Linked DNA regions of Homo sapiens. The protein of the gene in region 1 purifies or fractionates together with the protein of each later gene. This does not show direct contact. Each region holds a gene or a part of one and is shown in the gene's direction. Other genes may lie near its edges. The genes, in order: CDK10, CABLES1, TTC14, CCNE2, TFDP2, CCNT1 and NUDCD3.

Region 1 (3,500 bases):
TTTTGTTTGTTTTTGAGATGGGTCTTGCTCTATTGCCCAGACTGGAGTGCAGTGGCATGATCATAGCTCACTGCGGCCTCGACCTCCTAGGCTCAAGTGATCCTCCCACCTCAGCCTCCTGAGTATCTGGGACCACAAGAGTACATAAGCACACCCAGCTAATTTTTAAATTTTTGGTAGAGATGGGATCTCCCTATGTTGCCCAGGCTGGTCTTGAACTTCTGGGCTCAAATGATCCTCCTGCCTCGGCCTCCCAAAGCACTGGGATTACAGGTGTGAGCCACTGCACCCGGCCAAGCCTAGGAGTTTGAGGCTGCAGTGAGCTGTGATCACGCCACTGCACCCCAGCCTTGGCAACAGAGTGAGACCCTGTCTCAAAAAAACCAAAAACACCACACACAACTAAAGGTTATAACAGATGTGAAATTGGCGTAGGTCATTCTGGAAGCTGCACACATTAGCAGGATGTTTTGTAGAGCCATCTTCACACAAAATAAGGTTTGCTTTTTTCTGCATAGAGTACCTTATTTGCTTTTAGGACATTACAAGAGAGCACAAAGCAGTGATCTGCATGCTAAGGAGGACATGGAGAGCCTGGAGCCACAGAACTGAGTGGCTGGAGGCCAGGGTCCAGCACAGAGCAAAGTTGGGCACCCCCTGCCCAGTTCAAATGAGGAAACCCTCCGGGGGAACGCGTCTCGGGCTAGGGGCGTTGCACAGAGTGGGGACTGAGTGTCACTGGGCATGAGGTTGTCAGAGGAAAGAACGGGGACCCCTGTGGCTCAGGGAGAGCCTCCCGTTCAGCGCTAGGGAGCCCACGAGGGGCATCGAGATGATGTCATCACCAATGTGTTTCCATTCCAGATCGGGCCCGGGACACCCAGACAGATGAGATTGTCGCACTGAAGAAGGTGCGGATGGACAAGGAGAAGGATGGTGAGCAGGAAATTGGGGTGTTGGGACCTCGCACTGGGAGGAGGCAGAAGGATGTGAGTTACCTGAAGTTTCCTCAGAGCGACTGCACGGTGCTTGTAGCGGGGGCCGGCCTCTGGGAGGGTTCTGGTGTGGCCCAGCACATCACCCCCAGGTCCACACGCAGCCTCAGCTGTCTGCCAGGAGGGCTCTGCAGTCTCCATCCCCTCCTCCCCCTCCTGTCTGGTGAGGCCACCTCACTGCAGGCTCAGCTCTGCTGTCCCCTCCACCCCCAGCACCTGCCTGTGCAGGCAGGGCCCTGCCATGCCCCACATAGATGTCCACGGTGTTTAGAGAGGTGCCGATTCGTATTTGGTCAAGGAAGAGTTAAAAGTGCTTATTGGGCCGGGCATGGTGGCTCATGCCTGTAATCCCAGCACTTTGGGAGGCCGAGGCAGGCGGATCACCTGAGGTCGGCAGTTCAAGACCAGCCTGACCAACATGGAGAAACCCCATCTCTACTAAAAATACAAAATTAGCCAGGCGTGGTGGCACATGCCTGTAATCCCAGCTACTAGGGAGGCTGAGGCAGGAGAATTGCTTGAACCCGGGAGGCAGAGGTTGCGGTGAGCCGAGATGGTGCCATTGCACTCCAGCCTGGGCAACGAGCGAAACTCCGTCTCAAAAAAAAAAAAATGCTTATTGGGGTCGCCCCAATTCTCCCTGAGGTGGGGACACTGCAGCACCTGCTATCAGGTGTTCGTGAAGCCCAAGAGTGGCTGGGGTTGGGGCTTCCCCGCCATCACTGGGGTGGGGCTCGCTGAGGCCACCTCCCTCCCCAGGCATCCCCATCAGCAGCTTGCGGGAGATCACGCTGCTGCTCCGCCTGCGTCATCCGAACATCGTGGAGCTGAAGGAGGTGGTTGTGGGGAACCACCTGGAGAGGTACGTGGTCTCCTGGTCTGCACATTGGGCCCTAGGGAGCATGTGTCTTGGGCTAGAGGTGTTGCACAGAGCGAGGACTGAGTGTCACTGGGCATGAGGTTGTCAGAGAAGAGATGACCCCACCTCACCGCCTGGCTCAGCCCATTGTCTGAGGGGGACACAGGTTGTCCTGCCCATGTCCCCTCCTGCAGCAGGGGAGGCTCCACTTCCACCCCTTAGGAGAAGGCCGGAGAGTGGCATGCATCTTCTGTTTCTTCCAGCATCTTCCTGGTGATGGGTTACTGTGAGCAGGACCTGGCCAGCCTCCTGGAGAATATGCCAACACCCTTCTCGGAGGCTCAGGTGCGTGGCAGAGGGGCCTGGGGTGGGGGAATGGGCTTCATGGGCCCTTGTGGTGCACATTTATAACGAAACAGGGCACTTGGGGACTTGAAGAGCTGCTGCTGCCTCTGCCTCCACCTCCCAGTGTTTCAGCGAGCTTCAGTGAGGTGGAATTCCTGTGGTGGGGGCATCTGCTGGGAGCGGGCAGCCCCAGGGCCGAGAGCCTTATGAGGGCACTGGTTTCCTGGGCTGTTGGGAGCAGGCAGCCCCGGGGCTGAGAGCCTTCTGAGGGCACTGGTTTCCTGGGCTGCTGGGAGCGGGGAGCCCTGGGCGGAGAGCCTTCTGAGGGCACTGGTTTTCTGGGCTGCTGGGAGAGTGCAGCCCCGGGGCCAAGAGCCTTGTGAGGGCACTGGTTTCCTGGGCTGCTGGGAGCGTGCAGCCCCGGGGCCGAGAGCCTTCTGAGGGCACTGGTTTCCTGGGCTATTGGGACTGCTAGTCCTGCTGGCCAGTGTGGGTGTGGCAGGGCCCAGCTGGGCTTCCCTGCAGGCTCACCCTGACTGGTACCTCTGACCCTCTGCACAGGTCAAGTGCATCGTGCTGCAGGTGCTCCGGGGCCTCCAGTATCTGCACAGGAACTTCATTATCCACAGGTGGGTGACAGCTAGGCAGAGTTGGAAGCACAAATTCGGCTGAGGCCTAACTCTGCTGCCCCTGTGGAGTTACTAAAAGCTCAGGGGTTCCCAGCTGCAGCAGCCTGCCCGCTGCTCGCACTCCATTTGTGTTTTTTTCTAAAATAGAGAAGGGGTCTCTCTGTGTTGCCCAGGCTGGTCTCACACACTTGGGCTCAAGTGATCCACCCACCTTGGCCTCCCAAAGTGCTGGGATTACAGGTGGGAGCCACCACACCCAGGCATGCACTCCGATTTTTAAAAGGTCCAAACATCAACAGCATGTAAGAGTTAATGAAAAAAAAAATAATAAAGATACTACGCCGGGCACAGTGGCTCACGCCTGTGATCCCAGCACTTTGGGAGGCCGAGGCAGGCGGATCACGAGGTCAGGAGATCGAGACCATCCTTGTTAACACAGTGAAACCCCATCTCTACTAAAAATACAAAAAAATTAGCCGGGCGTGGTGGCGGGCGCCTGTAGTCCCAGCTACTTGGGAGGCCGAGGCAGGAGAATGGCGTGAACCCGGGAGGCGGAGCTTGCAGTGAGCCGGGATTGCTCCACTGCACTCCAGCCTGGGCGACAGAGTGAGACTCTGTCTCAAAAAAAAAAAAAAAAGATACTAAAAAGCCCAAAGCTGAGGAAACGTGCAG
Region 2 (3,500 bases), on another chromosome or scaffold:
AGTGAAAACTTCAACTTCAGTTTGCTTTTAATTACTTTCAGCTGCAGTTCGACATTCTCTAGCTCTATTTCCTGGTGCTGGAGAGTTAGTGCTGGCATTTCAGCCAAACAGATATTTCTATTTTTAATATACCATTTTAATGAGAATTCAGAACAATGATCTTAGAAAATACCAAGATTTCATCACACTCCACTGGGACTTCTGCTTCATTCTTTCTCACTGGAGTTTTTAAAAGATTCTTTTGGAGCGAATCTCCACCATTCAGAGTTCCTTTCTGCATGCAACTCCAACGTTCTAGGCTTCCAAAAGAGAGGGACAGCAAAGACCATGGGTCTTGCCTGCTTTTCACTCACACATAAAGACTGAGCAGTTGCCTGAGCTGTTAAGCTATGTGGCACAATGTGAAACTGCTGTTTATGGGGGTCAAGTACGACCAAAGAACAGCAATTTCATGTTTCATGTTAATATCAGAAAGATTCCAGCAACATTGATCAGAGCCCTTACCTAAGAAGAATGAACCCGGAAAAGTTTGTCAGCCTCTTTGTGAAAGATGTATTTTTTAGATCCCAAGAGTCTTAACATATACAAATTAAAAAGCTATGAGAAGGGCCAGGCGCGGTGGCTCACACCTGTAATCCCAGCACTTTGGGAGGCCAGGCGGGCGGATCACAAGGTCAGGAGATCGAGACCATCCTGGCTAATATGGTGAAACCCTGTCTCTACTAAAAATACAAAAAATTAGCCGGGCATGGCGGCAGGCGCCTGTAGTCCCAGCTACTCGGGAGGCTGAGGCAGGAGAATGGCATGAACCCAGGAGGCGGAGCTTGCAGTGAGCTGAGATCGCACCACTGCACTCCAGCCTGGGTGACAGAGCAAGACTCCATCTCAAAACAAAAACAAAAAAAACCTATAAGAAACTGACATTGTTAGAAATGAGATCTGTTTTGTTTTCTGTGGACGGCTGACTATGCCCACGCCTGTACGTGTATGCTCTTAATTCCAGGCCAGCAAAATGGTAGCCCTGAAGTTAGTGATAACCTCTCCCTGAATCTGAGGGAGGAAAAGCGTGGAAAAGTTGCCCTCTGCCATCACGAAGCTGTCAGTGTTCTAGAGCTGAGATGATATTTATTACTGTATCAGCGAAGTTTTGAAGTGTGACTAGCTTTGGCGTACAAGAAATACCTCATTTCTTCTTTTTAAATCTACTTAATATGAACTGTAAACCCCCCTTCTACAAGGCTGAGGGGAAATTGAGACTCACTTTTCACTGGGCATTCCTCCCTCCCCATCTCCAGTATTGTGCAAAGAAGGGCCTGGAACCTACTGTAATGCCTAGGATTTGGGGAACACATGCTGGTTGTTGTTCCTTTGGTTGCCCTAGCACTGCCAAAACTGTCACACCCGCCCCGTGACCCCTCCAGGCAAAAAGATCTGCTGCTCTGTGCCAGATGTGAATTACGAATCTTTATCATGGCTGGGAGCCCTGTTCTTGGGGTGCTGATGGTGCAAGGCATGGGTCCCATTTGATCATGGACCCCATGGTCATTTCCCTTCCGACTTAGGAGAATCTTGCACTGCTGCTCCCTCTGCAGTGGCCTGTAATTTAAACATCCCCAGAGGCAATAGGCAGAAAATAGGCCACTCTTGGGAAGAAAACTGGGAGACCAAATCCATGTCACTGAGTATCTATGACTATATTATCTTGCCATAGGAACTTATAAAATAAGGGTAGCAAAAGTCCTGCCAAGGAAGCACTGGGTCTTAGTAGTCACTAGCCACATGTGGCAATTTACATTTAAATTAATTAAAATTAAATAAAAATTCAGTTTCTCAGTCAACTGTTCACATTTCAAGCACTTAGTTGCCACACGTAACCATCGTATGGAACACGGTAGATAAGGACCATCTCCGTCATCACAGGAAGTTCTGTTGCGTGGCACTGGTCTGTAACAAGCCTCACGTGTCTCCAGTAGCAGTTGAGGGTGGCCCCACTATTCTTGCTTATTTTCTTACTCGGCTTAGCCTTAGCAATTTAGAAAGTAGAATGACGTAAGTAGAAAGCCAGGGGGAAGTGGTGACTGCAGTGAGTCACGTTATTTCTCGAGGGACCAGTTCTGTGGGTAGGGTTGGTGGAGCCTTGCCCGTCTTTCTTGTGGTCCCAAGTGTCGCTGAGACGCTTGGACAATCCACTGGAATCCCTGTTTCTAAGAATCCCTGTTTCTTTAAATGGGTTTGGGTTTTATCTCATGGAATAGAATCTTGGACTTTATACGAGCACATGACTATATTTTTTTTTTGTTAGGGCTTCATTTCCTTTGGAGGAAATGCCAAGAAGGGGAGTGTGGAAGAGGCGCGACTGGTTTGGTTCTGTTAACTGTGATGTGTGATGTGCACATTTGGCGGCAGGCAGACAGCTGGCCAGGACAAGGCTGCCCCGGGGAAGCAGTGAGCCTGTGAGCAAATTGAAGACAGATGAAAAGGGGCACAGTGGAAAATCACCCAAGTTTCATGCCATCTGCATGTACCAGTACCGGCGAGACAGCAAAGAGCCACACTAGCTCAGCTCAGTAAATAGTTCGTTACATATCAGACGTTGTATAGACAGGATATGAAAATGGACTGAGACTGCCCCTGCCTGCAGCCAGCTCTCCATCTGAGAACCCTCTCAGTATGGGCTTATTGGAATTCTCCTTATTTCCCTTGGCCTACTCACTCCAAAAAGATATTCCCTACTTCTCTCTTAATTTCAGCCCTAAGTAACATTCTCCATCTGGCAAAATGGAAACAAGGAGAAAATTATTTGGGAGTTGGGAATTTGAAGACCATGCTTGCTGGCTTTGGCTTTGGAAAAGTAGGAAGCCCATGGAACTGAGCTGCTGGTCCTTGAATGAAAAGGAAGACACTGCTGTTTTTGTCCTGCTCTGCATGTGGTCAGTCCCCTCCCTCCCTGCCCACCGCAGGTATTTTTGCTTCATTGCCTTGTTCACGTTTTTGCTTTGTAGGCACTTCCCTATGCCAGTGCCCCTGTGCATTCATCATCTCCATCCTTAATTGCTTTAAGAAGCCTTTTGAGAATCGCCCTGGGGTGCCTGCATAGCAGCTGCAGCAGTAGGGCAGACGGTCTTGTGGGTGTGAACAGAGTTGGTTGTTGGCTTTCTTCTGCATGACTTTGGTGTCGATTCTGAACGGGACTCCAGAGATGTTTTGAGGGTGGCACTACCATGGCCTCCCAGGAAGCCTGCTGTGGAAATGCAGCACTTACTGGGCACAGAAGGTCTTGGGCATTTCTGTTAATTAGACTCCACATTATGGGTAGGATAAGGGAGCCGGCTCATTCATGTAATGCCCAGAGACTAGGATGATGGCTCAACAGAATCAGAGCATCCCTGTTTTTTTTTCTATATTGGAGGATAGCTTTTTTCCCTTCTCTTCTCACCACTCGCTTGGCTCCCTCCTCTCTTCTTACCTGATGACTTTGTCTTTGGCTGGGAGCAATTTGC
Region 3 (3,234 bases), on another chromosome or scaffold:
GGACTGTCTTATCAGTGATTAATATGTGTACCATGTAACCAAGTAGAGAAGGATGCAGAAACTTTTTATAAGAATTTTGTGTGTATGCTAAAGAAAAATACTGGGTTTTTTTGTTTTTTGTTTTTGTTTTTTGAGTCGGAGTCTCACTGTGTCACCCAGGCTGGAGTGCAGTGGCGCTATCTCAGCTCACTGCAAGCTCTGCCCCTGGGTTCACGCCATTCTCCTGCCTCAGCCTCCCAAGTAGCTGGGACTACAGGTGCCCGCCACCACGCCTGGCTAATTTTTTTTTCTTTGATTTTTAGTAGAGTTGGGGTTTCACCGTGTTAGCCAGGATGGTCTCAATCTCCTGACCTCGTGATCCACCCGCCTCGACCTCCCAAAGTGTTGGGATTACAGGCGTGAGCCACCGCACCTGGCCAAGAAAAATACTGTTTAACAATAATAATCATTTCGAAAGTTCAAAGATTTTGGTATGTAAATAGAATGCAGATTTCTTGCTTGGGATTCATACTTTCACTGTCGAGTGCCTGTCAAGCAGAGTTAAGTATAGTTACTTAAAAAATATTTGTGGTTTAACTTTTTAATTTTTATTTTCTTTAATAGCAAAAATTTCTCTGAAGATGATTTTGCTTCTGCATTGAGAAAAAAACAATCCGCATCTTGGGCTTTAAAATGGTATGAAGACTGTCTTTCAACAATTGCATTATATCTAGTCTAAAAGCTTAGGGCAAGGCAAGCATGCTTATATCATCAATAAGACAAATTTGAGATGCATTAAAGTGATGCCTTTTTGACATGAGCTTTTCTTTTATAGATGTAAGTAGTCTTACATTTTACACTTAACAGATAAGTTTTACTCAGCATTTCAGTTTTCTCAAAAGGAATTAGTATATTGATATCTAGGTTTCACCAATATTTGTTGTGAAAATGTCCAAAGGCAGAAGAACGTTCCTTAGGTATATTGTGAGTACTCTGAAAACTAAATATTTTGCCAAGTTTGATGACATTTGCTTTTAAAACTTATTCACACTAACATTTTATTTAGATATTGTTTGAAGTGTTTGTGATGCTTTACAAATGTCTTTTTTAGTGTGAAGATCGGAGTTGACTATTTTAAAGTTGGACGCCATGTGGATGCTATGAATGAATACAATAAAGCTTTGGAAATAGACAAACAAAACGTGGAAGCTTTGGTAGCTCGTGGAGCATTGTAAGTGAATCATACATGGATTTTAAGGAATGTTTACCAGGTAAATGCGAACAAGATTTATGAAGAGCTTGTGAGATACAGCCCTCTATCTTTGTTTCATGTCTCTAGATATGCGACAAAAGGAAGTTTGAACAAAGCAATAGAAGATTTTGAGCTTGCATTAGAAAACTGTCCAACTCACAGAAATGCAAGAAAATACCTCTGCCAGACACTTGTAGAGAGAGGAGGACAGTAAGTATCAGATTTTGTTTAATAGTGGAGGTCTAATGTTCAACCAACCACTAAAAAATTTTGAACTTAAGGAAATAGTTTCTTAAGCACTTAATTTATAACACTCTTGGTTTCAATAAATAAATGGGAAAGTACAAGAGATTAGGCAAATACTCTTTTCCTAGATAATATACTCAAAAGTTTTTGGTTTAATGACTATACTATTTGTGTAGTCATTCCTGTTTGTGATCACAAATTCCAAGTTGATTAAATTTTGCAATATTCGTTTATAATTTATAGGAACTTCTATTTAATGATTGGAGCAGCTTTTTACATACTTACTAGGTGGATAACTAGTAACTACTTATATGTGGTTGTCTTATAGCCTTGTATTGATGTCTTTGAGCTGAGTGAATAGCAATACCCTGTAGTTACCTAAGCCAGAGATACTGTTCATCTTTGACTTGTCCTTTGTTTCCCATATCCAGTCTACTGACACAAAAGTGATCCCATTGTATTTGTTTTATAGTAATTTCTTTTTCCTTCTAAGAACCCAAAGCACTTTGCAACATCTTTTGACTGCTTTATGTCCAAACTTTCTCATTCTGGTGTTTCACAACCCAGACTTGTGAAATTCATCTAATGATTATGCTATTTACAGGCTCATTGTGATATATGTGTATGTTGGTATTTCCAAAGATTTCCAAAATTTTCTGTAGATAATTTTTCATAAACTACTAGGGAAAAAAGCCTGCTGGTATAATTCTGTGCTAAAATTCAAGATCATACTAAATTTGTGGACACCCATTTATCATGGGTTTTTGTGTATTACTGCAAAAATGTGCCAATATTGGACATATACCTTTAGTTACTAGTAAGATTTCTGTTTATGTGGTCTATGAAATAAATTACAGTAAAAAGCATATTATTTTGGTATTTTATTTTGGAAAATAATTTACTTGGCTTTTCCCTAATAAGCTCTCTCATATAAGCCTTTGACCTGTATGCATATTTGGATAGTTTTGTTGTTTTTACAAAAAAGCTAAATCTTTCTTTCAAATTTAGGTTAGAAGAAGAAGAAAAGTTTTTAAATGCTGAAAGTTACTATAAGAAAGCTTTGGCTTTGGATGAGACTTTTAAAGATGCAGAGGATGCTTTGCAGAAACTTCATAAATATATGCAGGTGATTCCTTATTTCCTCTTAGAAATTTAGTGATATTTGAAATAATGCCCAAACTTAATTTTCTCCTGAGGAAAACTATTCTACATTACTTAAGTAAGGCATTATGAAAAGTTTCTTTTTAGGTATAGTTTTTCCTAATTGGGTTTGACATTGCTTCATAGTGCCTCTGTTTTTGTCCATAATCGAAAGTAAAGATAGCTGTGAGAAAACTATTACCTAAATTTGGTATGTTGTTTTGAGAAATGTCCTTATAGGGAGCTCACCTGGTGGTTTTTAAATTATTGTTGCTACTATAATTGAGCTAATTATAAAAACCTTTTTGAGACATATTTTAAATTGTCTTTTCCTGTAATACTGATGATGATGTTTTCTCATGCATTTTCTTCTGAATTGGACCATTGCTGCTGTGTCTGTGACATCTGGTGCTGCTCATCCCCATCCACAAACTGGAAAATGATTTCCTATGTAATCATGCATCCAACTGGGCTGTGCTATTTTTTTAAATGGTTTGTATTTGAACATGGTGATTCCTCCTTCACTTCACCTTAACGGAATGTCTTTATTTGAATTTTATTTGTAAAATGTGTCCTGTTTAAATTTTTCAATCTTTAAAAATAATTTTTATGTACTT
Region 4 (3,500 bases), on another chromosome or scaffold:
CTGTGATCACATGCCTTATGTGTTTAACTTTTTTGTATTGCTCTTGAGAAAACATTTTTTTTCACTTTTAATTGCATTTATTTTAGTGCTGAATTTACTCCTGTGCCATAAGTTTTTGTTTCTTCAGTTTCTTCTGGGATATCTTTTTCTTCTGGGCAACCGCCTCTTCTGGTTTAGGAACAATTTGTTCCTTTTCACTAAAGATCATTTCGATGTGGCAGGGAGAGATCACGTGTGAGTTAATCCGACCATGAGCTCTGTAGGTCCGTTGGCACATCGTAGGTGCTTTGTTCACTTGGAGATGCTCAATGACCAGAGAATCTACATCTAAACTCTTAAGTTCAGCATTACTCTCTGCATTTTTAAGCATGTGCAGCAAAAATTCAGCACTCTTTTTGGGCCACCAACCTTGTGTCCAGTCCCACTGCTTGGCCTGGGTACACCTACCAACTCCACCATTGTAATGTCAGAATGGCACATGCTGTTTCTGTAAAGTGACATTTTAAAAATACTTCATGGTGTTTTTTTTTTTTTTTTTTTTTGGAGACAGAGGTTTGCTGTTGTTGCCCAGGCTGGAGTGCAGTGGCACGATCTCGGCTCACTGCAACCTCCACCTCCTGGGTGCAAGTGATTCTCCTGCCTCAGCCTCCTGAGTAGCTGGGATTACAAGCATGCCACCACGCCCAGCTAATTTTTTGTATTTTTAGTGGAGACGGGGTTTCACCATGTTGGCCAGGCTGGTCTCGAACTCCTGACCTTAAGTGATCCACCCACCTTGGCCTCCCAAAGTGCAGGGATTACAGGTGTGAGCCACTGTGCCGGCCACTTTGTGGTTTTTCATATATGCATACCCTTGATAGCCTGGGCAGTTTCACGAGTGTTCTTACAGTGAACACAAAGATTTGAACCTCTTGATTTGCATGATTTTGTGGGGTTTTCCAGGTAAAGTGAATAGCCAGCTATTTTCACAGATTACTTCAGACCACTTATGGGAAAAGCAACGTGGTTATCTTTTAACAGCAACCTTTGTAAAGTATAAATAAGTGGAACTAGAAAGCACTCCCTTGAAATCTGCAGGTTTGGATGATCATAGTCCAGGTTCCCACTGTGTTACTTCAGGCTTCTATTTATTCATGCAAAGGAAATTGTTTCCAAAAATTAAGGCAGAAGTTTTTTTTCTTATTTACTTTAAGAGCTTCTTCCAAGTTCTAATTAAAAGTTGCATTTCAATGTCTGAAAGTTGAATTTTATCTATGTGAAACAGAGTTTGTATATTACATGGATTGCACAATTTAAATTATGTTTTTTAGCCGGGCATGGTGGGTCACGCCTGTAATCCCAGCACTTTGAGAGGCTGAGGCAGGTCGATCACTTGAGGCCAGGAGTTCGAGACTAGCCCAGCCAACATGGTGAAACCCCATCTCTACTAAAAATACAAAAACTAGCCAGGCTTGGTGGCAGGCACCTGTAACTCCCAGCTACTTGGGAGGCTGAGGCACAAGAATCGCTTGAACCCAGGAGGTGGAGATTACAGTGAGCCAAGATTGTGCCGCTGCACTCTAGCCTGGGCCACAGAGCGAGACTCTGTCTCAAAAAAAAAAAAAAAAAAATATATATATATATATATGGTTTTTTTCCTCTCTTTCCATAGCTGGGGATGTTCAAAAGAAGTCTGGCTAAACATGTTAAAAAAGGAGAGCAGATATGTTCATGACAAACATTTTGAAGTTCTGCATTCTGACTTGGAACCACAGATGAGGTCCATACTTCTAGACTGGCTTTTAGAGGTATGTTACAGCAATACAAATTTCCTTTGTCTCTGTATGATGGAAACATATTTAGCTGTAAATGTGCTTTCTATGTACTCTCAAGAGTTTATTGTTCATCCCCAGGAAGCTGTCTTTTTTGAGGTACTTACTGTAGTTGATTGCACCCAAAGTGGAAAGTGACTCTATAAGAGTAAAACCATGACAAAGCTACTACATATAACTAAACCCAATTCAGAATTCCTGTTACCTGTGGATACTGCTGTGTACCAACCACTTTCTGGGTGCCACAGATACTCAAGGTGAATGGAATGTATAGTTGATTAGGTTTTGAATTATGCTATACAAAGTGAAGAACTAGAACTAGGCTTCAGGGCCCTCTGAAGTCTTTTTCTGTATTAACAAAATCATGATGATGAGGAATCCTGATTTCTATATCCTAAACCATAATGAGACTATGGATATCTGGAAGCTCTACGCCCTCTATTGTCCAGATACCTTCTCTTTATTATATTCTTCTATTCTTTTCCGAAATATACCATTAATTTAAAGGAATAGTGATCCTGAAGCCCCTATAGATTTGTGCCAGATTTTTCTCTCTTGTTTAGGTCCATTCCCTTTCCTCTGGATAATAGCTCTAAAAAAGTTTCTAAAATTATTATTAAGGAAATCATTACTTATGTTGATGACAAACTGATTTTTCCTCCAACTCTTGGATATTTGCTCTGTAGTCTGTCTTTAAGACAAGAGATGAAGCATTCTAAGGGAAAAAGACCATAGACTTTTTGGAGGAGGAACACATGGCAGAATAGATCTCAGAAGCTATCAGAACAGTTTTTAAGACTAAAATGTTATCCTTTTGCATCAGGTCATCTTTTTCCTTATTCTGACTAGAAGGAAAGATTGTATTTTAATTGTGGGCACAAGAAGGCATTGGGTTTTGACTTTTTCTGACTGTCTAGTGATCATGGAATCAACTTAAGCACAATTATGTTAATTTTTAATTTGTTTCCTTTTTGTTATACTGATATTCATCCAGTGGTTATCCAATTCAATTTGTTCCTGTTTTTACCTAAATATGATTATGTATGCAACAGCATACAGAATATATCAAATCCAGCAGTGTTAAACTCTATCTTAGTGTATTCTTCAGTCTAGGAATGCAAACTTGATTCAACATTTGAAAATCTATTAATTTATTACCTTAACAGTAAATAAGAAAAATGCTAAGATCTCAATAGATGCAAAAGACATTTTTTGAAATTCGACATTCTTTTTTTTTTTTTTGAGACGGAGCCTCGCTGTTGTCACCCAGGCCAGAATGGAATGGCACGATCTCAGCTCACTGCAACCTCTGCATCTCGCGTTCAAGCGACTCTCTTGTCTCAGCCACCCACATAGCTGGGATTACAGGCGCAGGCCACCACACCTGCTATATTTTGTATTTTTAATAGAGATGCGGTTTCACCCTATTGGCCAAGCTGGTCTTGAACTCCTGACCTCAAGTGATCCGCCCGCCTTGGCCTCCCAAAGTGCTGGGATTACAGATGTGAGCCACCGCACTCGGCCAGCAAAAGAGATTTTCTTAACTCATTATTAGAAACTCATGTGGCCAGGTGTGATGGCTCATACCTGTAATGCCAGCACTTTGGGAGACTGAGGCAGGCAGATCAGTTGAAGCCAGGAGTTTGAGACCAGCCTGGCCAACATGGCAAAATCCCATCTCTACTAAAA
Region 5 (3,500 bases), on another chromosome or scaffold:
AGACTGGTCTTGAACTCCTGACCTCAAGTGATCTGCTCGCCTTGGCCTCCCAAAGTGCTGGGATTACAGGCGTGAGCCACCTTGCCCAGGCTGATTTGATTTTTGTGTATGGCAAGTGATATGGGTCTGGTTTTTTTCTTCTGCATTTGCATATCCAGTTTTCCCAGCACCATCTATTGAAGAGACTGTCTTTTCCCCAGTGTGTGTTCTTGGCATCTTTGTGGAAAATGAGTTAACTGTAGGTGTGTGGATTTGTTTCTGGATTCTCTGTTCTGTCCATTGGTCTGTGTGTCTGTTTTTATTCCAGTCCCATGCTGTTTTGGTTACTATAGCTCTGTAGTATAATTGAAGTCAGGTAATGTGATTCCTCCAGTTTTGTTCTTTTTGCTCAAGATAGCTTTGGCTATTCTGGGTCTTTTGTGGTTCCATATAAATCTTAGGATGGTTTTTTCTATTTCTGTGAAGCATGTCATTGCCATTTTGATAGGGATTGCCTTGAATCTGTAGATTGCTTTGATAGCAGTATTGACATTTTAACAATATTGATTCTTTCAATCCATGAACATGGAATATTTTTCCATTTTTTTGGTGTCCTCTTCAATTTCTTTGATCAGTGTTTTATAGTTTTCATTACAGAGATCTTTCACTTCTTTGGTTATTACCTAGTTATTCAATTTTATGTGTGGCTGTTGTAAATGGAGTTACTTTTAAAATTTCTTTTTCACATTGTTCACTGTTGGCATATGGAAATGCTACTGATTTTTGTATGTTGATTTTGTATCATGTAACTTTACTGAATTTGTTTATCACTTCTATTAATAATACTTTTCTTGTGGAGTCTTTAGGTTTTTCCAAATATAAAATTGCATCATCTGCAAACAGGGATAATTTGACTTCTTCCTTTCCAATTTGGGTGCCCTTTATATCTTTCTGTTGTCTGATTGCTCTAGATAGGACTTCCAGTACTTTGTTGAATAACAGTAGTGACAGTGGGCATGCTTGTCATGTTTCAGATCTTTGAGGAAAGGCTTTCTAGTTTTTCCCCATTCAGTATGATACTAGCTGTGGGTCTGTCATATATGGCTTTTATTATGTTGGGGTGTGTTCCTTCTATCCCCAGTTTTTTGAGTATCTTAACTTCTTTGCAACATAAATATTTTATTTAAGACCTATATGTCCTTTTGCAACATATTTCATGCTCTTTTGACTTTTTTTTTTTCTTGAGACAGAGTCTTGCTCTGTCACCCAGGCTGGAGTGCAGTGGCATGATATCGGCTCACTGCAACCTCCGACTCCCGGGTTCAAGTGATTCTTGTGCCTCAGCCTCCCAAGTAGCTGGGATAACAGGTATGTGCCACCATGCCTGGCTAATATTTGTATTTTTAATAGAGACAGGGTTTTGCCATGTTAGCCAGGCTAGTCTTGAACTCCTGGCCTCAACTGATCTGCTGCCTCAGCCTCCCAAAGTGCTGGATTACAAACTTAACCCACCACACCTGGCCTATGTTCTTTTGACTTTAAAAGAAATTAAATAGATCTTCGTTCAAGATGGCCGAATAGGAACAGCTCCAGTCTGCAGCTCCCAGCGTGATTGATGCAGAAGATGGGTGATTTCTGCATTTCCAACTGAGGTACCTGGTTCATCTCATTGGGACTGGTTGGACCGTGGGTGCAGCCCACAGAGGGTGAGCCGAAGCAGGGAAGGGCGTCACTTCACCCAGGAAGCACAAGGGATCAGAAGATTTCCCTTTCCTAGTCAAGGGAAGCCGTGACAGACTGTACCTGGAAAAATGGGACGCTCTCGTCCAAATACTGGACTTTCCCCATGGTCTTAGCAACTGGCAGACCAGGAGATTCTCTCCCGTGCCTGGCTTGGCGGGCCCCACATCCGTGGAGCCTTGCTCACTGCTAGCGAAGTAGTCTGAGATGGACCTGTGAGGCTGCAGCCGGGTTGGGGGAGGGGTGTCCGCCATTGCTGAGGCTTGAGTAGGTAAACAAAGCGGCCAGGAAGCTCAAACTGGGCGGAGCCTACCTCAGCTCAGCAAGGCCTACTGCCTCTATAGACTCCACCTCTGTGGGCAGGGCATAGCAGAACAAAAGGCAGCAGAAACTTCTGCAGACTTAAACATCTCTGACAGCAGTGGTTCTCCCAGCATGGTGTTTGAGCTCTGAGAATGGACAGTCAGCCTCCTCAAGGGGTCCCTGACACCCGTGTAGCCTAACTGGGAGACACCTCCCAGTAGGGGGCGACAGACACCTCATACAGGTGGGTGCCCCCCTGGGACGAAGCTTCCAGAGGAAGGATCAGGCAGCAATAATTGCTGTTCTGAAATATTTGCTGTTCTGCAGCCTCTGCTGCTGATACCCAGGCAAACGGGGTCTGGAGTGGACCTCCAGCAAACTCCAACAGACCTGCAGCTGAAGGACCTGACTGTTAGAAGGAAAACTAACAAACAGAAAGGAATAGCATCAACATCAACAAAAAGGACATCCACACCAAAACCCCATCTGTAGGTCACCAACATCAAAGACCAAAGGTAGATAAAACCACAAAGATGGGGAGAAACCAGAGCAGAAAAGCTGAGAATTCTAAAAACCAGAGTGCCTCTTCTCCTCCAAAGGATTGCAGCTCCTCGTCAGCAACGGCATAAAGCTGGACGGAGAATGACTTTGATGAGTTGACAGAAGCAGGCTTCAGAAGGTTGGTAATAACAAACTTCTCTGAGCTAAAGAAGCATGTTCTAACCCATCGCAAGGAAGCTAAAAACCTTGAAAAAAGGTTATGGCTAACTAGAATAAACAGTGTAGAGGAGACCTTAAATGACCTGATGGAGCTGAAAACCATGGCATGAGAACTTCGTGAGGCATGCACAAGCTTCAAAGGCCGATTTGATCAAGTGGAAGAAAGGATATCAGTGATTAAAGATCAAATTAATGAAATAAAGCGAGAAGACAAGTTTAGCGAAAAAAGAGTAAAAAGAAATGAACAAAGCCTCCAGGAAATATGGGACTATGTGAAAAGACCAAATCTGTGTTTGATTGGTGTACCTGAAAGTGACGGGGACAATGGAACCAAGTTGGAAAACACTCTTCAGGGTATTATCCAGGAGAACTTCCCCAACCTAGCAAGGTAGGCCAACATTGAAATTCAGGAAATACAGAGAACACCACAAAGATACTCCTGAGAAGAGCAACCCCAAGATACATAACTGTCAGATTCACCAACGTTGAAATGAAAGAAAAAGTGTTAAGGACAGCCAGAGAGAAACATCAGGTTACCCAAAAAGGGAAGCCCATCAGACTAACAGCGGATCTCTCGGCAGAAACCCTACAAGCCAGAAGAGAGTGGGGGCCATTATTCAACATTCTTAAAGAAAATAATTTTCAACCCAGAATCTCATATCCAGCCAAACTAAGCTTCATAAGTGAAGGAGAAATAAAATCCTTTATAGACAGACAAATGCTGAGAGATTTTTTCACCACCAGGCCTGCCTTACAAG
Region 6 (3,500 bases), on another chromosome or scaffold:
GAAATACAGCTCTTAGCATTACTATCTTTGAGTCACTGAAATGTTCTTAATATTCAAGAAAAGTTCTATTTCCTGAAGTTTCCAAGATCACCAGGCTACATTTATGTCATATTGCTTTAATCTTTTATAAAGTTTGTTATCTACTTTTATATTGACTTCAATTTTTCCCTCTTAATGCTTTCTATAAATAATGTCTTGCATATAATGCCATGCTTTGTATTTTTGAAAGGTTCGATATGTATAAGTAATTGAGATATAATTCACGTACAATGAAATTCGTTTGTTTAAATTATATAGTTCACTGGTTTTTAGTATATGCGCAAAATTGTGCAACCATCAGCACAGTCTAATTGCAGAACATTTACATCACCCCAGAAAACTCCTCACCTATTAGCAGTTATTCCTATACTCCTCTCCCCGCAGCTCCTGGCAACCACTAAACTTTTTCTCTATATGGATTTGCGTATTCTGGACATTTCAGTTTACTCCTTAAAAAATGTATTGAGTGATTTGATACAAACTTAATAAAGAATCTCACTTTAAATAGAAAACTGTCTGCTTACATCTAGTAGCTTCTCCCATAGACAGCTTTTAATGACAGTTTGTCAAAGAATTGGTATTTGGAAGTGGAGATGGATTAATGGGTAGGAGAGGGGAAGATGGTAGAAGCGGGGGGGCGGGAAAGGGTAAAGAGGTGACAAAGTTGAGGCAAGCAAATAACTTGATTTGAGACTTAGCTCCTCTTTAGATCTACCTTACTCTATGAATGAATAAATTGATAATAAATATGATTTATTTTCTCTCCATTCAGTCTGTGGCTCCAGCAGCCTTGTTTCTAGCAGCTAAAGTGGAGGAGCAGCCCAAAAAATTGGAACATGTCATCAAGGTAGCACATACTTGTCTCCATCCTCAGGAATCCCTTCCTGATACTAGAAGTGAGGTAGGAGATTAATTACACATCTGTTTTTCTTAATTTTTTTCCTTTCTTTTTTTTTCCCTACTCCCAAGCATGCCTGGATCTTTATGTATTTCAATGCAACTTAATTTTATAACTTCGATTTATTGAAGTTTAGATTGGTGTTGTTAAAAGAATATTTTAGTGTTTGTGTTTTTCTTAACAGTAAGAAAATCAGGCCAGGTATGGTGGCTCACCATACCTGTAATCCTAGCACTTTGGGAGGGTAAGGTGGGAGAATCACTTTAGGCCAGAAGTTTAAGACCAACCTGGACAACATAGCAAGACCCTGTCTCTATATTTAAAAAAAAGAAAAAAAAAAGCCAGATGTGGTGGCTCATGCCTGTAATCCCAGCACTTTGGGAGGCTGAGGCAGGAGAATTGCTTGAGTCCAGTTCGAGACAAGCTCTGGCAACAAAGTGAGACCCCATTTCTACAAAAAAAGAAAAACAACAACAACAACAACAACAAAAAACAACTGGGCATGCTGGCTCACATCTTTAGTCCCAGCTACTTGGGAGACTGAGGTGGGAGGGTTGCTTGAGCATGGGATGTTGAGGCTGCAGTGAGCCATGATCACACCACTGCAGGCAACAGTGCCAGGACTCTGTCTGAAAAACAAAACACATAAATTTTATGGCGAAAGTTTTGTATTTGTTGCAGTAAAATTTGAAAATACAGAAAAATTCAAGAATAAAATATCTCTCAGATATATTCTAGACCAATGGTCCCAGACCTTTTTTGGCACCTGGGACTGGTTTCATGGGAGACAGTTTTTACATGGACAGGGGGTGGGGTTGGAGATGGTTTTGGGATGATTCAAGCACATTACATTTATTGTTCACTTTATTTCTATTATTGTTACATTGTTATACATAATGAAATAATTACGTAACTCACCATAACGTAGAATCAGTGGGAGCCCTGAGCATCTCTTTTTTTTTGAGACGGAATCTTGCTCTTGTCGCCAGGCTGGAGTGCAGTGGCGCAATCTCGGCTCACTGCAACCTCCACCTGCCGGTTTCAAGCGATTCTCCTGCCTCAGCCTCCTAAGTAGCTGGGACTACAGGTGTGCACCACCACACACAGCTAATTTTTGTATTTTTAGCAGAGACAGGGTTTCACCATGTTAGCCAGAATGGTCTCGATCTCTTGACCTTGTGATCTGCCCGCCTTGGCCTCCCACAGTGGTGGGATTACAGGCATGAGCCACTGTGCCCGGCCACCTTGAGGTGCTTTTCCTGCAACTAGATGGTCCCATCTGGGGGTGATGGGAGACAGTGACAGATCATCAGGCATTAGATTCTCATAAAGAGCAGCAAATTAGATCCCTTGCATGGGCAGTTCACCACAGGGTTCAAGTGCTCCTATAAGAATCTAATGCCACTGCTGATCAGACAAGAGGCAGTGCTCAGGTGGCAATATGTATGGTGGGGAGAGGCTATAAATACAGATGAAGCTTCACTCACTCGTACCTGCTGCTCAACTCCTGCTGTGTGGCCTAGTTCATAACAGGCCATGGACCCCCTGTTATATAGACAACTGAAGCACAGGTATACTAATGAACCACTGTTATTTGTGGCTTCTTTTCTATAGATAGCTATGTGTGCATGTATTTTGTCTCTGGTTTGTTTTCATTTGCTTACTATATCCCAAATATTTTCCCATCTGATGGATTCTCTACTTTTTAAAAATGTCTGGCTAGTATTTAATGATATATATGTGAATGTATGTATTTTTAACAATTCTCCATGAAGAAGTCTAGATAATTTCTAGCTTTTAAAATCACTATAAATGTTATGAAAAATATTCTTTTTTTTTTTTTTGGAGACAGGGTCTCATTCTGTTGCCCTGGCTGGAGTCCAGTAGTGTGATCATGGCTCACCGCGGCCTTGACCTTCCGGGCTCAGTGATCCCCCTGACCTCAGCATCCCGAGTAGCTGGGACTATAGGTGTGCGCCACCATGCCCAGCTAGTTTTTGTAGAGATGGGGTTTCACCATGTTGCCCAGGCTGCTCTCGACCTCCTGAGCTCAAGTAATTCGCCCACCTTGGCCTCCCAAGTGCTGGGATTACAGGCGTGAGCCACTGCACCTGGCTGAAAAATATTATTATACATTTTTATTATGGATCCTTAAATGAGTAGTTTCACTATTTTTTTTTTTTTTAACTTTTTTTTCGAGTTGGAGTTTTGCTCTTGTTGCCCAGGATTGAGTGCAATGGTGCAATCTCAGCCAACCGCAACCTCCCCCTCCTGGGTTCAAGCGATTTGCCTGCCTCAGCCTCCCGAGTAGCTGGGATTACAGGCATGTGCCACTACACCCGGCTAATTTTGTATTTTTAGTTGAAACGGGGTTTCTCCATGTTGGTCAGGCTGGTCTCGAACTCCTGACCTGAGGTTATCCACCTGCCTCAGCCTCCCAAAGTGCTGGGATTATAGGCGTGAGCCACCATGTCCAGCCAGCTTTGTTTTTTTTGAGACAGAATCTCGTTTTGTTGCCCAGGATAGAGTGCAGTGGCAAGATTGTAGCCAGGATGGTCTCGAT
Region 7 (3,500 bases), on another chromosome or scaffold:
TTTTATCCACAAAAGCTCATTTGACAGGAGGTTTGTAAAGGTGATTTCAGTATTGACAAGGGTTTTATTGTGGGGTGGGACAACACTGAATGAGACTGAGTGACTTGGTACCAGCATAACATTATTTCTTCGTGGTAGTAGGTGATCTCCTGACCTCCCCACTCCTACTCATCTGCCTCTTAGGGTTTTTTTTTTTTTCTGTCCCTAACTTGATGGCATAAGACTCCTTCCTGGGGTCTGCCTCTCCACCCCCACCAGATGTGGGATGCTTGGTGTCTCTGCTGAATATAGGCAGAGAAGAATTTGGATGGGAGTGCTGGGCTGCATCATTGTGGAACTTCAAAGCGTTCCCTTAATATTTTGGGGAGTACAGTGTTGGTGTAGAGTTAGGCAGCTCATACGTTTCCTTTTAAAAGTTTGCATAGCCTGGATACACAGCTTGAAGAACCTCAGCAGGAATGATGTATGTGAAAATTGCATTCCATTTTATAATACATTAGTATGTTTTAAGACAAAAATCGTTTAGACTGACAAGCCATTCATTATAATCGATAATGCTGTTTTTTTTGGAGTCCACTTTGAGAAGTGCTCCTTTGTAGAAGTCCTTGAAACTAGAATCAGGAAAGCTAGCTACATCCTGTTCCTTACATAAATTGTTGAGAAATCTTGGGAGAGTCACTTCACCTCTTGTCAGCTGAGAAGATTGATTGGAGGTTACAGATTAGAGTTCTCTTCCAGCCCTATGTTCTGTGACTCTAGAATGAGTACTGAGAACATGTGATAGTTGGGAGGTTGGCAGTGGTAGCACTTCCTGGTGGTGTGAATGGGTAGGTCAGAGAAGGCTGGATGTACTGAGTGAGCAGAGGCAGCTGCATGGTGAGGACTATCAAGTCTGGGGGTTCTGTGTTCGAAGTCTCAGGTGTTAGGAGAGAGAGATCTTGTTGCTTTGCTTTTGTGGAGTTAAGATGAAGATCTGGAGTATCAGCAGGATGAGCAACTCTGAAAGCATGGACTCAAAGCGGTAGAGACCCTAATGTTAGAATGAAGTCAGGGCTTCAGGTTATCTGCAGAAGTAAAAATGGTTCTGGTGTTGTTTCCAGTTTTTAACCTTTTAGGATTTTATTGATTTTTTTTTTTCCCCTCTGCCTACATCATCATCTCCCCACACTGTTTGGTGTGTGCTGCGTAGTTTTTTACTTCTTTTGCCAGCAGGAGCTGGGGCAAGTTACGTAACCTTTCCAAGCCTTATTTTTTTCTCATTTTTGAAATGTTGATGCTGTCTTCTTCACAGTATTTTTGTGAGGGTTTTGAGAGAATGTTTGTAAAATAATTTGACACAGTTAGTCTGTTAGCACCCTTTTGACTGCCCGCGCAGTGCACAGAACATTGTTATTTAATACCTGTCCGCATTCTAGCCCTTTGGAATCTGACTCCCACCCATGTCCCAGGTTGCTGTCTCAGCCTTTCCTTCCTCCAGTTATTGCAAGAGCTTTTGCCCTTCCTTGACAAGCCTATTCTTAGAGCTGTGGCATTTCCTCCAGTGGTTCCCTGTGGAAGATGTGCCTCTCATTCAGGGTCTAACTGGGATCCTCCTTGTTCCAAGAAGTCTCCCTAGATTTCTTTCGCCAGACATGCTCATTCCCACCCATACCCTGACAGGGAATTGAGGGCCTTGTCATGCCCCCTCTTGTATCAGAGTTTTCATGTGTGGGTATGTCTTGACTGTACTTTTTTGGTAGAGAGGTCCCAGCACCTTCATGGGTGTGACTGTTTCCCAGAAAATGTTAAGAACTTGTTTACACACCAGAATTTTGAGTTCTTAGGAGGCAGCAGAAATCATTTTGATGTTTTTTGTGCGTGCGTGTTTCTTGCACACTGTAGGCGCATAGTAGATGTTTGTTGAATTGAATGTCCATGCAGTGTGGTGAAAAACAGCAGCAGTCCTGTAAACCTGGTTCCATTTTGGGAATTGAAGTTCAGCCATATTTTCATGTTTCATTTGTGAGTCTGAATTTTGGTGCCTTTATAACCCACAGTTGTACCAGGACCGTGTATTCTTTGCATTGTGAACAAGACTGGGGTCTGTAAAATAATGACAACAAAGACCATCTAACTGTACATCTTTTAGGTATGTAAATATTGTTAGCCTTGGCTTATAAGTTTCTGATTTTGTTGATTTTGGAATCCTCCTGTTAAACACTGTTTACCTGTCAGCTTTTGGTGAAGTGGCAGTGCATTTCCATTTTGCCAGTGGGAAAACTTGTCAGTTTCTGACTTTTAGTTCTCTCCTTCACAGATTTTACGACATTTCTACAAGATATGTGGTACAGTATTGGGCAGATGAACTGATTGCTGGATTGGTGTTTGATTTTAGGTATTCAAAACCTTTGACCACATGGCCCGTCAGGATGATGAGAAGAGAAGGCAGGAACTTGAAGAGAAAATCAGAAGAAAGGAAGAGGAAGAGGCCAAGACTGTGTCAGCTGCTGCAGCTGAGAAGGAGCCAGTCCCAGTTCCAGTCCAGGAAATAGAGATTGACTCCACCACAGAATTGGATGGGCATCAGGAAGTAGAGAAAGTGCAGCCTCCAGGCCCTGTGAAGGAAATGGCCCATGGTTCACAGGAGGCAGAAGCTCCAGGAGCAGTTGCTGGTGCTGCTGAAGTCCCTAGGGAACCACCAATTCTTCCCAGGTGGGAATTTCTACTTTGCAGCTTCCTTCTTTCTTGCGTAACATCTGGTGTTTGGGTTTCTCCATAATTTATTCTTACTTTGTAACACATTAATTCTTGATCTCAGTATTTATTTAGCTCTTCATGTTTGTAAACTGCTGCATTACAGTCTTTCAGTTATGTAGGATGGGAGGTCAGTTGGCTTAAGGTCAGTTCCCTCATTTGGTAAGGTCAGTAGTCATACAACCATTTGAGATCCAGAGCCAAAATTAGAGCACTTGACTCCTCTCACAAAGACCTAACTTTATCTGTGTTTAGAGGCTTAGCCTCAGCAGCTCGATTGTTTGTGTTTTTCTCTCTGCAGGAGCACTGCTAGGATTTGCTCATGATGCCTGAGGTATAATGGACACCTGAAATGACAGTCTGTTTTAGGTGACTGGATTCACATCCTCGCTATGCCGCTTCCTGAATGTATTACCTTGAACAAGCAGTATAACCTTTCTGTGTCTCAGTTTTCTTCTCTATAAAATGTAGGTGATAATAATAGTACCTGTCTCATAGAGCTGTTGTGAATTTTAAATGAGCCGATAGTCAAGCAGCTAATGAGCAGTAGAGCTTGAATATGACATGAGGTTTCCCTGAATCAAGCCTCTTGCTTTATGTACTTGTACTCACTTTTTAGGAGTTATGTTTTGTGGGTGCTCTAAACTTAGTTATACAGTCCTTCCTTACAGTCTGAGTGAGAGGAGCTGATCCCTTCTTGTGTGGGAGTTGTAGTAGTGTCTGCAAGACAGCCACGAGCCTCCTGGCCTGCTTTGTTTTTTTGGAAA

Evidence for each region.
Region 2: the proteins of CDK10 (region 1) and CABLES1 purify together in Homo sapiens (affinity purification with mass spectrometry, with the first as the bait; one large-scale study listed by BioGRID). This does not show direct contact.
Region 3: the proteins of CDK10 (region 1) and TTC14 purify together in Homo sapiens (affinity purification with mass spectrometry; 2 studies listed by BioGRID and IntAct, with this or other methods). This does not show direct contact.
Region 4: the proteins of CDK10 (region 1) and CCNE2 purify together in Homo sapiens (affinity purification with mass spectrometry, with the first as the bait; one large-scale study listed by BioGRID). This does not show direct contact.
Region 5: the proteins of CDK10 (region 1) and TFDP2 purify together in Homo sapiens (affinity purification with mass spectrometry, with the first as the bait; one large-scale study listed by BioGRID). This does not show direct contact.
Region 6: the proteins of CDK10 (region 1) and CCNT1 purify together in Homo sapiens (affinity purification with mass spectrometry, with the first as the bait; one large-scale study listed by BioGRID). This does not show direct contact.
Region 7: the proteins of CDK10 (region 1) and NUDCD3 purify together in Homo sapiens (affinity purification with a luminescence readout; one large-scale study listed by IntAct). This does not show direct contact.

The regions. Positions count from the first base shown.
Region 1 is NC_000016.10:89,689,689-89,693,188, forward strand, and holds part of CDK10 (cyclin-dependent kinase 10), read left to right. Parts: intron 1-864; coding exon 865-936; intron 937-1,754; coding exon 1,755-1,857; intron 1,858-2,117; coding exon 2,118-2,199; intron 2,200-2,760; coding exon 2,761-2,828; intron 2,829-3,500. UniProt on the Homo sapiens protein: Cyclin-dependent kinase that phosphorylates the transcription factor ETS2 (in vitro) and positively controls its proteasomal degradation (in cells).
Region 2 is NC_000018.10:23,229,485-23,232,984, forward strand, and holds part of CABLES1 (CDK5 and ABL1 enzyme substrate 1), read left to right. Parts: intron 1-3,500. UniProt on the Homo sapiens protein: Cyclin-dependent kinase binding protein.
Region 3 is NC_000003.12:180,605,163-180,608,396, forward strand, and holds part of TTC14 (tetratricopeptide repeat protein 14), read left to right. Parts: intron 1-603; coding exon 604-675; intron 676-1,090; coding exon 1,091-1,210; intron 1,211-1,318; coding exon 1,319-1,441; intron 1,442-2,485; coding exon 2,486-2,603; coding exon of another isoform or gene 2,604-2,633; exon of another isoform or gene 2,634-3,234.
Region 4 is NC_000008.11:94,888,702-94,892,201, reverse strand, and holds part of CCNE2 (G1/S-specific cyclin-E2), read left to right. Parts: intron 1-1,651; coding exon 1,652-1,787; intron 1,788-3,500. UniProt on the Homo sapiens protein: Essential for the control of the cell cycle at the late G1 and early S phase.
Region 5 is NC_000003.12:142,139,545-142,143,044, reverse strand, and holds part of TFDP2 (transcription factor Dp-2), read left to right. Parts: intron 1-3,500. UniProt on the Homo sapiens protein: Can stimulate E2F-dependent transcription.
Region 6 is NC_000012.12:48,703,208-48,706,707, reverse strand, and holds part of CCNT1 (cyclin-T1), read left to right. Parts: intron 1-811; coding exon 812-940; intron 941-3,500. UniProt on the Homo sapiens protein: Regulatory subunit of the cyclin-dependent kinase pair (CDK9/cyclin-T1) complex, also called positive transcription elongation factor B (P-TEFb), which facilitates the transition from abortive to productive elongation by phosphorylating the CTD (C-terminal domain) of the large subunit of RNA polymerase II (RNA Pol II).
Region 7 is NC_000007.14:44,484,159-44,487,658, reverse strand, and holds part of NUDCD3 (nudC domain-containing protein 3), read left to right. Parts: intron 1-2,374; coding exon 2,375-2,691; intron 2,692-3,500.